2 linked regions of the Homo sapiens genome follow. The protein of the gene in region 2 interacts with the protein of the main gene of each other region in a pairwise test. Each region holds a gene or a part of one and is shown on either strand. Other genes may lie near its edges.

Region 1 (7,026 bases), on a different chromosome or scaffold from region 2:
TCATTATGTCAGGAAACAGTGAGTTAGTGGTTATCTCTAAGTGGTGAATTTTTAAGAAATTTTTACTCCATATTTATACTTTCATGATTGTCTGAATTTTTAAATGAACTATGTATTTTTTCATTTGGGGACAGAAAAGCACAATAAGGTCATTATAATGCCTATGAACAGGGCTGGACAAAGCTCTAGGAAATGTCTAAAGACAGAACTAAAAAATGGAATGACAGTGAGTGGTACAAAAGCCTGGGTTCTAGATATTTTTGACCCAGCAGTTCATTATTATTAAGCTTCTGTAACTGTTCATCATATGTGAATTGCCCAGCTCTAGAATGCTTATAGGATGGGGTGTGCATGTAACCATCTATTACTAAATATCACCAGGTTCTGAAGTTACCAAGTCAAGGTTATTGGGAGCTAATAAACTGAAGAAACTCAACATTAATTAATGAATGCCTGAATGGATAAAAGGAAGCTACTAGGAATGAATATAAAGACAGGCAGTTAAAAAAAAAAAAAAAGAAAGATGAAATGATGAATGAAAGCATAGGCACAAATTTGACATCATTAGCACAGAAAGCTCCAAACAACATGCTGTGAACCAAGAGTTTAAGTAAACAGTCTCCGTCCCTTTTCCCATATTCTAGTTTCCTGTCATTGTTTCCAATTCATTTTTTCATGTCATCTTCAAGTTTATACTCCATTTTATTTTTATGCTTTTGTGATATGTAAGAAGATTTATATATGTTATTTTTATCCTGGTCTTTCCTGGTACACAGCTCCTAAAACCCTTAGAATTGCCAAAATGATAGGTGTCCTTTTGTATGCTGTTGAGATGACTGGTAGCTAGGGGCTCCTGCACAGCATCAGTATGAGGGCTAGTTGCCAGGGGAATCAACCAGAGGGTTGGAGCTTCCAGCTTCATCCCTGGACCCCCAGGGAAGGGGACAAAGGCTAAAGGTTGAGCTGATCACCAGTGGCTGATGATTTAATCATTCGTGCCTACTTCATGAAGCCTCCATAAAAATCCACAATGACTAGGTTCAGAGAGCTTCTGGATAGCTGAACACTTGGAGATGCCTGGAGGGTGGTGCCCCTGGAAAGGGCATGGAAGCTCCACACTCGTTCCCACATACCCTGCCTTTTCCATCTTTTCACCAGACTGTTCTTCTGTAGCCTTTGTAATATCCTTTATAATAAACTGGTAAATGTATACAAAGCACTTTCTTGAGTTTTGTGATGTTTGAAACCAAAGGTAGTGCTAGGGCTGTTGCAGGAACTCCCAATTTATAACTGGTTGTCAGATGTACCAAAGGCCTGGACTTGCAACTGGCATCTGAAGTGCGGGACAATCTTGTGGGACTGAGCCCTTAACTTCTGGGACTGAGCCCTTAACTTCTGGAACCTGACTTTACCTCCAGGTACTATCAGAATACAATTGAATTATAGGATACCCATTTGGTGTCCTCTGGAAAACTGCTGGTATAAGAAACCCCCCTATTTGGTGACAGAAGTGTGCTGAGTCTGAGAATAGGAAAAATGGCTTGATTTTTCTTATCTCATACAAGCTTTGAACATAGCAACAGAGTTAAAGAGATAGCAAGTCCATAAACTCTAATTTCTCTATGCTTCCATCCATAAATCAACTCTCCCAAATCTCTAAAGCAGTGCATTCAAAAAGTGAGTCTAAAATGCATATTCTCACCCTTGTCTCGAACTCTAGGGGATAGCTTACAATCTGGAATTGTAACAAGTACTCCAGATCATTCTGATGCAATTGTTTGTTGCAGTTAGGTAACAGGTAGCAACAATTAGAAAATGCCCTTTACAAAGATCCTTAACTTTTATTCATTAACCCATCCTAATCATTTAAAAAGGCCTAGGGAAAACAAACAAACAAACGTACCTTTTTCCTTAATCGAGCAGCATTTACCAATTCGCCATTATGTGCCACAGCTATCTTCCCATGAAGTGTTTCAACAACGAAGGGCTGACAATTTTCTAGTTCACATTTTCCTGTGGTGGCATACCTGGTGTGTCCAATTCCAAGATTTGAAACATATAATTTTTTCAAATTGTCTTCAGTAAAGACGTGATTTACAAGACCCATTCCCTTGAGAAATCAAAAAGTGCAACTTAGAAAAAAACAGACTAGTACTGCTAGTAATAAACGCCTCTCTTCTCTGCCCAGCCAATCCAAATAAGACAAAGAAGTACATTTAATATCTCTGTGTTTCAGAATTCTAATCTAAAAAAAAGTCAAAAACAAATAACCTAATTGTAAGAACTGTGAAGCACTTACTTAAAAAAATTTACTGAGGCAAAAGTCACATACCATAAAATTAACCATTCTAAAAAGAACAATTTAGTGGCATTTAATACCTTCACAATGTTGAAGCACTTGTGTTTCATAAGATACTATTCACTAAAACATTTAAGAACAGATGTAGTAAGCAATAAAATTTGTCAAGTATAAAAACTAAAATTTGCATTAAAAAAATCAAAGCATCTTAAAGCATTTAAATAAATGACCCCCTATTTGAGTTGGTCTTAGGCAAAAAAGTATAACTGGGGAAGAAATACATCCTAATTTGACAAATGTTAGGATATAAAGTTGAAAGTGGCTGATCCAAAGAATATTACTTTTGATTGCAAATTATTTATTCAAATCCCCCTCCCCATATTAATGATCATCTGTCTTTGTTATCTTTGTCATCCCATTTCTTTTTTCTTTCTTTTTTTTTTTTGAGATGGAGTTTCACTCTTGTTGCCCAGGCTGGAGTACAATGGCGCAATATCAGCTCACCACAACCTCCGCCTCCCAGGTTCAAACGATTCTCTTACCTCAGCCTCCCAAGTAGCTGGGATTACAGGCATGCGCCACCACGCCTGGCTAATTTTGTATTTTTAGTAGAGACAGGGTTTCTCCATGTTGGTCAGGCTGGTCTTGAACTCCCGACCTCAGGTGATCCTCCTGCCTTGGCCTGCCAAAGTCCTGGGATTACAGGCATGAACCACCGCACTTGGTCTGTCATCAACATTTCTTAAAGTTCAAATTTACCTTGTGTGATTTGAATGTTGGCACCGAACTCCCATCACTAGTCACAATACCAGCACTCTCCTGACCCCTGTGAATATAAAAAGATATTAGCTGTTAAATCTGCCAATTGATTAGCTTCTTGAAGAACTTTATCAAGCATACTTTCTCAACAAGCATCCATGAACTTAGTGTGACAACACATTAAATGCTACTTGTACTAGCACTACTTCTATTGATGATGCTGATGCTGATGATTAGCAATCACAGCAGATGACAATGTAACAATTAGATATCTCATCTAATATTAACTAACATGCCAGGCAGTCTGTCCTAGCATTTTACGTTGTAAAAATAAATAATTTAAAAGCTATTGGAACCCCAAATATACTTTAGGCCTTGAGAGAGATATGACTGTGATCCAAGTCACATATGGTTACAACTTCTGTTTCTCAGATTATAGATTAACTCACTTTCTTATTTTTCTTGTTCTATACAATGACTAGAGAGAATTAAAAGACATCAGAGACAGCCGGGTACGGTGGCTCACGCCTGTAATCCCAGCACTTTGGGAGGCTGACGTGGGCGGATTACAAGGTCAAGGCTGGAGACCATCCTGGCCAACATGGTGAAACCCTGTCTCTACTAAAAATACAAAAATTAGCTGGCCATAGTAGCACACGCTTGTAGTCCCAGCTACTCAGGAGGCTGAGGCAGGAGAATTGCTTGAACCCGGGAGGCGGAGTTGCAGTGAACCAAGATCGCACCACTGCACTCCAGCCTGGGCGACAGAGCGGAGACTCCGTCTCAAAAAAAAAAAAAAAAAAAGACATCAGAAACAATAACCTCCTGCCTTCTCAAGTGATGAGCTTTGTTAAAGATTAACTCCTAGGTGGAGGCGGGTGGACCACGAGGTCAGGAGATCGAGACCATCCTGGCTAACACGGTGAATCCCCGTCTCTACTAAAAATACAAAAAATGAGCCGGGCGTGGTGGCGGGCGCCTGTCGTCCCAGCTACTCCGGAGGCTGAGGCAGGAGAACGGCGTGAACCCAGGAGGCGGAGCTTGCAGTGAGCTGAGATCGCGCCACTGCACTCCGGCCTGGGCGACAGAGCGAGATTCCGTTTCAAAAAAAAAAAAAAAAAAAGTTAGCTTTTGTTTTGTTGTCCTGCTTTGCTAGACCAAATGAAAGAAAACCCATTAACATCCTCTGTAAAAAAATGTTAAATGTACCCTTCCCCAGAAGAACCACCACCTATAACAATCAAACTGCTGTAACTGGGCGCGCTAACCTTGTATAAAAAATGTTGTGATTCTGCTAAAAACTCCTCTGTCTGCCTATAGAAATGAAACCTTAACTTTCCTACTTTGCAATGCTGACTCCATTCCTTGGAGTTGGTGTTTCTGGGTGAGACATCCTCAAACTTGGTGCTTGAATAAACTCTCTCTAAATTAGATTCTGATCCTTTTAATTATTTAGGTCGATAGCATGCGTGATATAATTTGGTTTTCACAACAATCCTATGAAGTAGGTACTATGATTACCATGCCCATTTTACAGATAAACACACTAAAGCAATAGAAAGGAAGTTACTTTCCCATTGTCACACAGACAGCAGGTGGTAGCCAGGATTCCAATGCAGACAATCCAACTGCAGAATTTATGCTTCTAACCTCTACTCTTTATAACCCCTAAATAGGGTTTCAACAGGATGAGTATGTAGATGTAAATTAAAATCTCCAAATATAATAGAGGCAAAATGCATAGTTGGTAACCATTTTTTATGCCTTTCTGCATTTTCCAAATGTTCTCCAATAAATAGCACTTTTGCTATTAGAAAAAAAAATTTTGTTTCTGAAAACCCTCTGCTGACCAGGCACCCTTTCCCATGTCTGTGTCTCATTTCCTGCATTAGTGTTGATTAAGTGGTGATACAGAGAAAAAAGCCAAAATCTAGACTGAAGGTAGGGCAAGACATAGTAAAGACTAAGAGCATCCATACCACTGTGCAGTATAAACTCTCATAAAGGTTCCAACTGCTTTGCCATTTTTAATAGTTCTGAACAAGTGCTATAAATAGTAGATGTTTATTGACCAATTTTTGTTCCAAAGAATATATATCAGGATAGAAACAAAAAGTAAACCTCTTCCATATGTGCCTGTAGACTTTAGTAGCTGTTAATACATTGATTTATTTGGTAAAAAGGAACCTTTTTCAAAATTATATATTGCAATTGTTGCAGTGTTTTATTAACGAGAAAAATGACAACATTAAATATGTTGCCAAGTAAAACTCTAAAAAAACTTGGCATGATCACAGCTCACAGCAGCCTCAAGAAATGATTTTATTAAATGCATTAAATACTGAAAATAGATATGCATAATACTATATACCATATGGGACTAAATAAATTGACTTATGATTTCTTTTATTTAGTGAAATGCTGTGGGGTCTGTAAGTTAACCAATGTTAGAGGACTAGGTGATTCATGTCAGAGGAAATATATTATTAACATTGGCTATAGACCTCTTGGAAAAAGCCTCTGCCAACCATTTTCAAAACAATTTTTAAAAATCAACAATCATTTGGTAAAACAGTAAATTATGTAAGAAAAGAAATACACAAAAAACGGTTTTCTTTCCCTTTTGTCTCAAGGGAAGTTTTTCCTTCAGGCTGAAATGATATAGTTAAGAATCATTTAGATCCAGGCTTCTTTAATCACAAAGCCTGCTTATTTGGCAGTTTCTCAAGTTACTCCCTCAGGCAGCTTGAACCAGTTAAACTACATCCTTTCAGCTCTTCGGAGCTTATTGACAACCAGCCATGTGGTTTCCTAGGAAACAAAACCTTGGCTGGAAATAGTGAATCATTTCCAGGTCACTTTCAACATGGAGAGTGGAGCAGGAAAGCACTGGACTGAGGAGGAGGTTAAAGCTTTGCTAAGTGTCTGGGCAGAAAAAAATATACGAAAACAACTTTATGGAACACTAAGAAATAAAGGAATATTTATTTACATTGCTAAAAGGCTGCAATCATTAGGAGTATACAGAGACTGGAAACAGTGCTGGGCTAAGTACAAAAATCTCAAATATGAATATAGAACAGTTAAATATGCCCATAACTCTGGAGACAGCTCTAAAACTATGAAGTTCTTCCATGATTTGGATGTAATCCTGCAGTATGAACCTGCCACACAATTTACAGAGGAAGATGCAAATGGCAGGTACCTGGAAACGCTCAGCCCAAGTACAGCCCCAGAGACCACTGAAGGTAAAAAAAAAAAAAAAAAAAAAAAAAAAAAGAAAAGTACTCTTGTTTTTCTTTTGTTTTACAGTTTTATGAACTGTAAAAGTTCAGGACTTCTGTGGCCATATGATAAATATAGACTGAAATATCAAGACTGTGGAAAAATAACCAATTTATTATGCTATTTTGCACAAGGTTAAGAATTTTTTTAAAAAGAGGTTAAATATTACCACTTTAAAAAAATCTGTAAAATACAGAAAAAGCACATTACAATGGCACTGACTGCTAGTGCCAACTGCATGTGATATGTTTTTGAAATATGGATTGAGTTCTAAAAATAGTTTAAGTTTTAATTTTATAAGAGTGGTAAATAAGGGGAAAAATATCAAAAACATTGCTCAACTGATGTTTTTCCACAGCTCCAAACAAGAACTTTCTCCTTTATTTAATTTGCGTTTTCCTAAATTTATAAATAAAAGCACATTTAAAATAACTGTTCTACACTATTTCATTACTTGTTTACAAGAACAGCTCCATTTTAACAATGAAGAAGAACAGCTCCATTTTAACAATGAAGTATAATGAAGATTTAGTACATGAAATGATCTGAGACTAAGTGATTTACAGGGGTTTCTTGACGTGCTGTGTTGTTAAACCCAACACTATTTACATAGAATCTACTCATTGTCTGTGGAAGCATTAGTAGGCAAAGGGAGGGAAATCAATGACAGTAATGAGATGTCT
Region 2 (7,385 bases):
TGTGCCATTTATGGTAAAAAATTTGGGTACCCACAATTGAATTCACTTATGGGTTTTTTTTTCATTCTCTTCAGGTGTGGCAGTTGGGTGGGCAGGGAGTAATTAACGTTTACTGAAATTATGCTACTTGGTGATCTCCAGGAATCATTTAGCAGGTGGTTTAAAATCCTCACATTTAATGCTGGTTGAGCAAGAGTGAACTGACTGTAATGACCCTTGGGAAGGTGAATTGGTTACAGACGTATAGTAACGACACTGTAAAGATAGTCCAGGCAGGAGATGACAGGTCTGGAGTAGAGTGGTAGCCGTGGCAAAGTGACATTTAATTTCCACGAAGACAGTTTTAAGGGAGACTGGGACATCGGAAGAAAAAAGGGGTGATGCAGAGCTCAAATCTGTACACGCTTGTTTGAGGTGATAGCAGACATCCAGATGAAGAAAACCAGCAGACAGGTGAAAATCTTAATCTAGGATGATTAGTCATGCTATGGATTCAGAGAAAGAAATGTGTTTTTTCATTACTTCATTAGGAATTGCACAATAAATCTCCTCCCCCATAATCACATGACTACTGACTTTTCAGCATGCAGGAGAAAAAGCAAATATTTCCACTGTTGAAAGGTTTTATTGGAGAAACTTGATGAATACAATGACTTCATGGCTTAGTGAAGACAACCACGGTGGTTAAAATACAGTGAACCCTCATTTAGCTGTATCCATTCAAAGTATTTGAGCATCTCCTATGTATAATGTCAATTTATTTGATGCTGGTTAAATGTGTAACAAGTTACTTAAAACCAACTGTAATACCAAAAAGTCATTGAACACACTTCTAAAGTATACTGCCTGAATAAAAGGTATCTATAAAAATTCCTTCCCTGTAGTATCTATATATTTAAGCTTACAAACTTAGCTGCTTTTCTACACACAACTGCAATTCTATATTAAAGCTTTGCAACTGCCTTAATCTCTACACTCTTTTTTTTTTTTTTCCCGAGACGGAAAAAAAAGAGTCTCGCTCTGTTGCCAGGCTGGAGTGCAGTGGCGCGATCTCGGCTCATCGCAACCTCCGCCTCCCGGATTCAAGCGATTCTCCTGCCTCAGCCTCCCGAGTAGCTGGGACTACAGGCATGCGCCAACACGCCCGGCTAATTTTTGATATTTTAGTAGGGACGGGGTTTCGCCATGTTGGACAGGCTGGTCAAACTCCTGACCTCAGGTGATGCGCCCGCCTCGGCCTCCCAGAGTGCTGGGATCACAGGCATGAGGCACCGCGCCCGGCCTATGCTCAAATGTTTCTTGGGCTGTTAAAGTACTGCTCCTCGCAGAAGGGCTATGTTCCCGGGATCTATTCTCTTCCGTACATTCATTCCTATCTTCATTAGAAAACATCTGACCTAAATAAATCCCCCATCGATGCTAACATCTCCTTCCGCGCAATTTTTTACTTTCTAAGTCAAATCAAAACAATTATTTGAGCGACTGCTCCTGTCTGCCATTAAGTCTTTCTGGCACCACCCTCCAGACATATATACAATATTGCTTCTTTCCCTCAAATCAGAAAGGACTGCATAGTTCCGGATCAAGGCATAAATGATGAATCATGACTGTCCATCCCCACCAACATACTCTGCAACATTATAATCTATTTACCTCTGCTTTGAAAATGTATTCTTTAAAGCACTGCTTCCAACTAGCCACTTAGCCAGTAACATTTTTGAGAAAAACAAAACACAACCCAAAACAATGTATATATTCCTGGGGGGAAGAGTTTCTAACTCAAAATACGCAGATAATTGTTTATTATTCTAAGGAACACCCTTCTGAAGAGGCCTGCAGTCGGTGGGGCTGTTTCTAATTTAAAACTACTTAGGTGAACCAGGAAGAATGTACATTTAAGGAGATACTTTTAGACGCAGATGCCTCGCGCAAGCCTAAAGCTCGTGTGGTAAGCGACACGACTAGGGGTTAAAAGCGGCTGGTTGGTAGGCCCGGGGCCGTGGCTCACGCCTTGTAAACCCAGCACTTTGGGAGGCTGAGGCGGGCAGATCACCTAAGGTTAGGAGTTCGAGACCAGCCTGGCAAATATGGTGAAACGCCGTCTCTACTAAAAACACAAAAATTAGCCGGCGTAGTGGCGCGCGCGCGCTCTCAGCTACTCGAGAAGCTAAGGCAGGAGAATCACTTAAACCCAGGAGGCGGAGGTTGCAGTGAGCCAAGATTGCGCCACTGCACTCCAATCTGGGCACAGAGTGAGACTCCGTCTCAAATAAATAAATAAAAGCAGCTAGTTACTTCTCATTCTTTTAACGAAACAAACAAAACTGAACTTTGCTGGGTGACAGGAGTGAAGCAAAGGAAAAAACGATAGTACAAGTTCGATTCGAATTCTTCCAGTCTTATGATTCGATCATCGCAGGAATACTGATAAAAATCTGCGTTTTTTCCAGGTTGACAACTTTTGCGAGGCCAGACTAAACGAATTCAGCGCTCCAAGGAGACTCCTCTTTCCTCTGCTTTCTCACATTTACCTCTCGCCTTTTACCTCCCAAAGTCGAACCCTCCAGGATCGTACAGGCGGTATTCCCTCTACCAAGCATTCTACTCCTCTGCAGATGCTGCAATCTTTACACTGGAACTAACACTTAGCTGTGGTGTTCCCCGCTTTCTTTACTCGGAGTAGCCCAGGCTCTTCCTCTCCAATCCACAATTTCCCTCCAATCCCCAGTTTCCCTCTTGGGCGCCTGGACGCGTGCCCAGCCGCAGCCTGGGAGACACCGCGCGGCTGCACGCACCATGCAGATGTGGTCCCTTTCCCCTTCTTCTTCTCCTCCCCAAAGAGGTTTTGTGCTGTGACTGGCTTGCCCCGGTTACTTACTCCAAGGTGTAGGGGTGAAGAACGGAAGAGGACGAAATAACTAGCTGGAGGCAGCAGTGTCAGCCGATGCCGGTGCCACGGCTCGAAACACCGGCGCCTCTCGCGGTGCTAAAAGGATGGGCGCGCACCCTCCTTCCGGCATCCGTAGAACCCCCGCCTTTGACCTAGCTTCAGGAGATTACTTTCCGGGTCAGCGTGCGTTTAGGGCGAAGACGGAGTTGTAAACTTCTTAAAATTCCTCTCTCGACACTTCGGTAATTCCTCTTTCGAGACTAAAGCTCTTTTTGTATGCGTGTGTGTCAAGCGTATGCCCCGGGATTCTCCTCCGCTTCCTTTTCTCGGTCTTCCTTCTTGCTTTAGGGACCGGAAGAGTCCTTGAACCAAAATAGCTCGGCGGGCACTTCCGGGGCCGGCGCCCAGAGTTCCGGGAGGGTGCAGGCAGGAGAGGGAAAGGCAGCAGCGGCGGCAGCTGGAGGATGAAGAAGGAGCATGTGCTTCACTGCCAGTTCTCCGCGTGGTACCCGTTCTTCCGAGGCGTTACCATCAAGAGGTGAGATGGGAGGGGGTTCGCCCGGTCGACCGGCAAAAGGGAACTGCGACTTCTGAGCGAATCTTACTGCTATCCAAAAAAATGCAGGCCTTCTAGCGACTGCATGGGAGGGAGTGTGTCGAGAGGGAAGTACATCAGCAATTGTCTGCGTCCTGTTGCGAGCCAGCGAGTGTGCTGGCTAGGAGGGTCAGTTGTGGTTTTCAGTGAGGGTCGGAGGCGGGAGGAATAGTGGATTAACCTAGTTTAGGCTTGGGAGTTCACCACCACTACTTTTAGAATGGCCCCAGGCGCAAGGTGATCACTGCCTAAGTGCACTCGGAGAATTAATTGCTTTTCGCCATCACCCCAGAGGATGGAGATTGGGAAGGTGAAAGGATACGTAATTACAGTTAGATACGAGAACAAGTTCACAGATATGTCGTACAGCATGGAGGCTATAGTTAATGACGATATACGTATTCTTGAAAAACGGAGAGTGGATGTTAGTGTTCTCACCACAAAAATAACTATGTTAGGCAATGCATTTGTTAGCTAAATTTATTCCACAGTGTATATATACTTAAAAACATCAGGTAGGCGGCAAGTATTAATATATACAATTTCATCTCTCAGTTTTTTTAAAGGCGTTGATAGAAAATCTGGGCTTTGCACTTAACTGATTTTCTGAGCCAACATTTCAGTAATTGCTGATTCATTATATGATGGTTTCATTCAATAAAGATCGGATATGTACTTGAAAATGTGTAACTGGCTTAGAATGGTTAAAATGTATAAGAAAAGTTTCAAGTTCTTAAATAGTATTGGAATGTGTGGTAGAACCTTAGATTCATTGTACTTAACAATTTCGCTTGTTAGCTTTGTAAGAGTAAAATACTTAGGAAGGCTTATTTGTAATCAGCAAATAGACATATTAAGAAAGAAAATTGAGTGGTTTATGAATAGAATTTAAAATTTTAAAGAGACTTTTAAGTTGCAAAGTTTCGCTTGAAATTGTTTAAAATTTAGTAGATTTTCAAACGTAATAAGATTTGTTAGAAGAAATTAAAAGCCTGAAGAACTAGATTTTTTTTTTTTGAGACAGAGTTTTGTTCTGTCGCCCAAGCTGGAGTGCAGTGGCAGCGATCTTGGCTCACTGCAAGCTTCCCTTCCCGAGTTCACGCCATTCTCCTGCCTCAGCTTCCTGAGTAGCTGGGACTACAGGCGCCCGCCACCACCCCCGGCTAATTTTTTGTATTTTTAGTAGAGGCGGGGTTTTCACCGTGTTAGCCAGGATGGTCTCGATTGCCTGACCTCGTGATCCGCCCGCCTCGGCCTCCCAAAGTGCTGGGATTACAGGTGTGAGCCACCGCGCCCGGCCAGAACTAGATTTTTGAATGTGAAATTGTACCTTTGATAAATCAAATATTTATTTTTAAAACCGAAGTTTTTGCTCTGTCGCCCAAGCTGGAGTGCAGTGGCAGTGATCTTTTATTTATTTAAAAATAAATAAAAATACTTATTTTTAAAACCGAAGTAGCCCATGAATACTCTTTTTTGTGCAAAAAAACCATTTGTAATGTGCCAAAAAAAACTTCTTCCATAAATAAATGAGACATGTTATAAGTCATTGATGTTCTGTTAACTTCGGGAAAGCAGGCTGTAATCTTTTCCACTTTTTGAAGATGTATATGCCTCAAAATCAAAATAATACCAGCACTCTTAGGGATCTGTGGTAGGGCTTTTTGATAATTTATTATTTCAAGGTAAAAAACAAATTATCCCATAAGTTTTTAAGAGACTTCAGGTATGGCTTTGCCATCCTTAATTATGATTACCTGAAACAAATTAAGCTAAAGCATGCCTAGTTTAAGCAGCTTTATATCTCTGGTGATCAGTTGAATAGAAAGCCAGCAAGACACATCCAAAAGTATCATGAATTCTTAGCGGTAGGTGCTCACTGCCAACCCAAGAATGGTTTCCAGATCTTGACTCTACTTCTGCCCTCTATCTTTAGAAGGTGACCAAATGCTAGTCATCTTCTAGTTGGGTTTGCTGCATTTCCTGTGTTGCAGCAAATATCTGCTGGTCTCTGATTTCTTAAAGACACATAAATGTTGTGCTCACTCAGAATCCTTTTGAGCTTGTTGCTTTCATACTGTGATTTCCATCTGGTGGTTTGGATTTGGCTGGTTTTTGTTTACTACAAAGACCATTGTGGCAATAAGATGAACCGCAGTAATCTTATTATTCTGATTTCTTGTCTACTGCTACCAAATGTACATCATTAACATTTTCTACTTTATATTAAAAGAAAGACAATTCCAAAATTAATCAAGTGTAGAGATTTTTCTCTCTGCTTATAGTTGGTCTTTTAAAATGATGCCTTTTTTGGTGTTTTTTTTTTAGTGTCATTCTTCCACTTCCTCAGAATGTGAAGGATTATTTACTCGATGATGGAACTCTGGTGGTTTCAGGAAGGTAAAGTATTTTAGAAAAAAATTTCTTAAACTTTATCATAAAGAAACACATAAAATGAATGAATTAGCTTAGGCACCATTCTTTCCCTTTAGCTCTTTTTCTCTCCTAGCCAAAATGATGTGCTGATCTTTGTCTCATATTCCTTCTCAATGTTCACTTAATATTTTCAACATTAAGTACTTTTCCCTCTAATAATTACAAGTTGTGAAATTGAGCAGTTCCTTTCATCTCTGTCTTTAGAAAACAGTTATGATGACAACTTTTCCTTCTGACGGTAGCAGGGTGGGGGAAGTACATATTAAAATTCTTTGAGATCCTTCAGTTTTGACGATTAAAAATTCACTGTTGCAAACAGGCTTTATCATCTAATTCCTCAACATTTTCTTCCCCACGATTGAACTACCGTGGCCCCCCCTCCACTTTCTAGAAGCTGTTCAGGTAGTTTCCCTATTTATAGAATAAAGGGAAGAAGTTACTGTGTTTCAGTCTTTTGGATGCAAACTTGAAAACGTTGAAGAATCATAGGATTTAGTGAAGTTCTCATTTTTTAATTCGAGTCTGCTCAGAAGTCACGTTATGAGTGTTCAGCCCTCACCAGCCTTTCTAAAATAGCCTGACAGTAACCCTATGCCCTGACCTCCCTTCATTTTTCTGCATAACACTTACTTCCACCTGACAATTGTTAATTGTTCCATTAGAATGCAGTTTCATGAAAACAGGGACTTGGCCCATTTGTTCACCCCAGCTCATGGAACAGTGCCTGATATAGCAGAAGTGCTTGATAAACATTTGTTGGATGAAGGAACTATAGAAATACAGTAAGAATTGTGTGTTTTCAGTACTACTAACTGGACCCCATATTTTTGCCTGTTGGGTTTTTAGTGTGGTTTTCTGGATTATATTTCTGTTTTTGGTATTCACAGAGCCTCAATAACCTGAAAATTATTAATGTAGCGCCTCATTAACTTTGAATAATTTGAGGCTGAGGAAACAGTAGGAAAGTCAGATAAGTCTCAACTTTAGGATATTTACAGATATAATTTTTTTTGTTTTGTTTTTCTTTTGAGACAGAGTCTCGCTCTGTCACCCAGGCTGGAGTGCAGTGGCGTGATCTCAGCTCACTTCAAGGTCTGCCTCCCGGGTTCACGCTATTCTCCTGCCTCAGCCTCCAAGTAGCTGGGACTACAGGCGCCCACCACCACGCCTGGCTAATTTTTTTTATTTTTAGTAGAGATGGGGTTTTACTGTCTTAGCCAGGATGGTCTTGATCTCCTGACCTCGTGATCTGGCTGCCTCGGCCTCCCAAAGTGCTGGGATTATAGGCCTGAGCCACCGCACTCGGCATTTTTTTTTTTTTTTTTTTTTTTAAAGATGGAGTCTTGCTCTGTCAGCCAGGCTGGAGTGCAGTGGCTCAATCTCAGCTCACTGCAATCTCTGCCTCCCAGGTTCAAGTGATTTTCTTGCTACAGCCTCCCAACTAGCTGGGACAACAGGTGTGCG

What was found. Proteins that work in one complex are often made in the same cells at the same time.
Region 1: the proteins of NUDT5 (region 2) and PPAT interact in binary tests that used the Homo sapiens proteins (3 or more experiments, as listed by UniProt).

The regions. Positions count from the first base shown.
Region 1 is NC_000004.12:56,404,592-56,411,617, forward strand, and holds part of PPAT (amidophosphoribosyltransferase), read right to left. Parts: intron 6,307-7,026; coding exon of another isoform or gene 5,925-6,306; exon of another isoform or gene 5,916-5,924; intron 3,126-5,915; coding exon 3,059-3,125; intron 2,111-3,058; coding exon 1,904-2,110; intron 1-1,903. Other genes in the region: PAICS (bifunctional phosphoribosylaminoimidazole carboxylase/phosphoribosylaminoimidazole succinocarboxamide synthetase), read left to right, coding at 5,925-6,306. UniProt on the Homo sapiens protein: Catalyzes the formation of phosphoribosylamine from phosphoribosylpyrophosphate (PRPP) and glutamine.
Region 2 is NC_000010.11:12,192,892-12,200,276, forward strand, and holds the start of NUDT5 (ADP-sugar pyrophosphatase), read right to left. Parts: upstream 3,001-7,385; 5' UTR 2,879-3,000; intron 1-2,878. Other genes in the region: CDC123 (translation initiation factor eIF2 assembly protein), read left to right, coding at 3,355-3,428, 5,814-5,885. UniProt on the Homo sapiens protein: Enzyme that can either act as an ADP-sugar pyrophosphatase in absence of diphosphate or catalyze the synthesis of ATP in presence of diphosphate.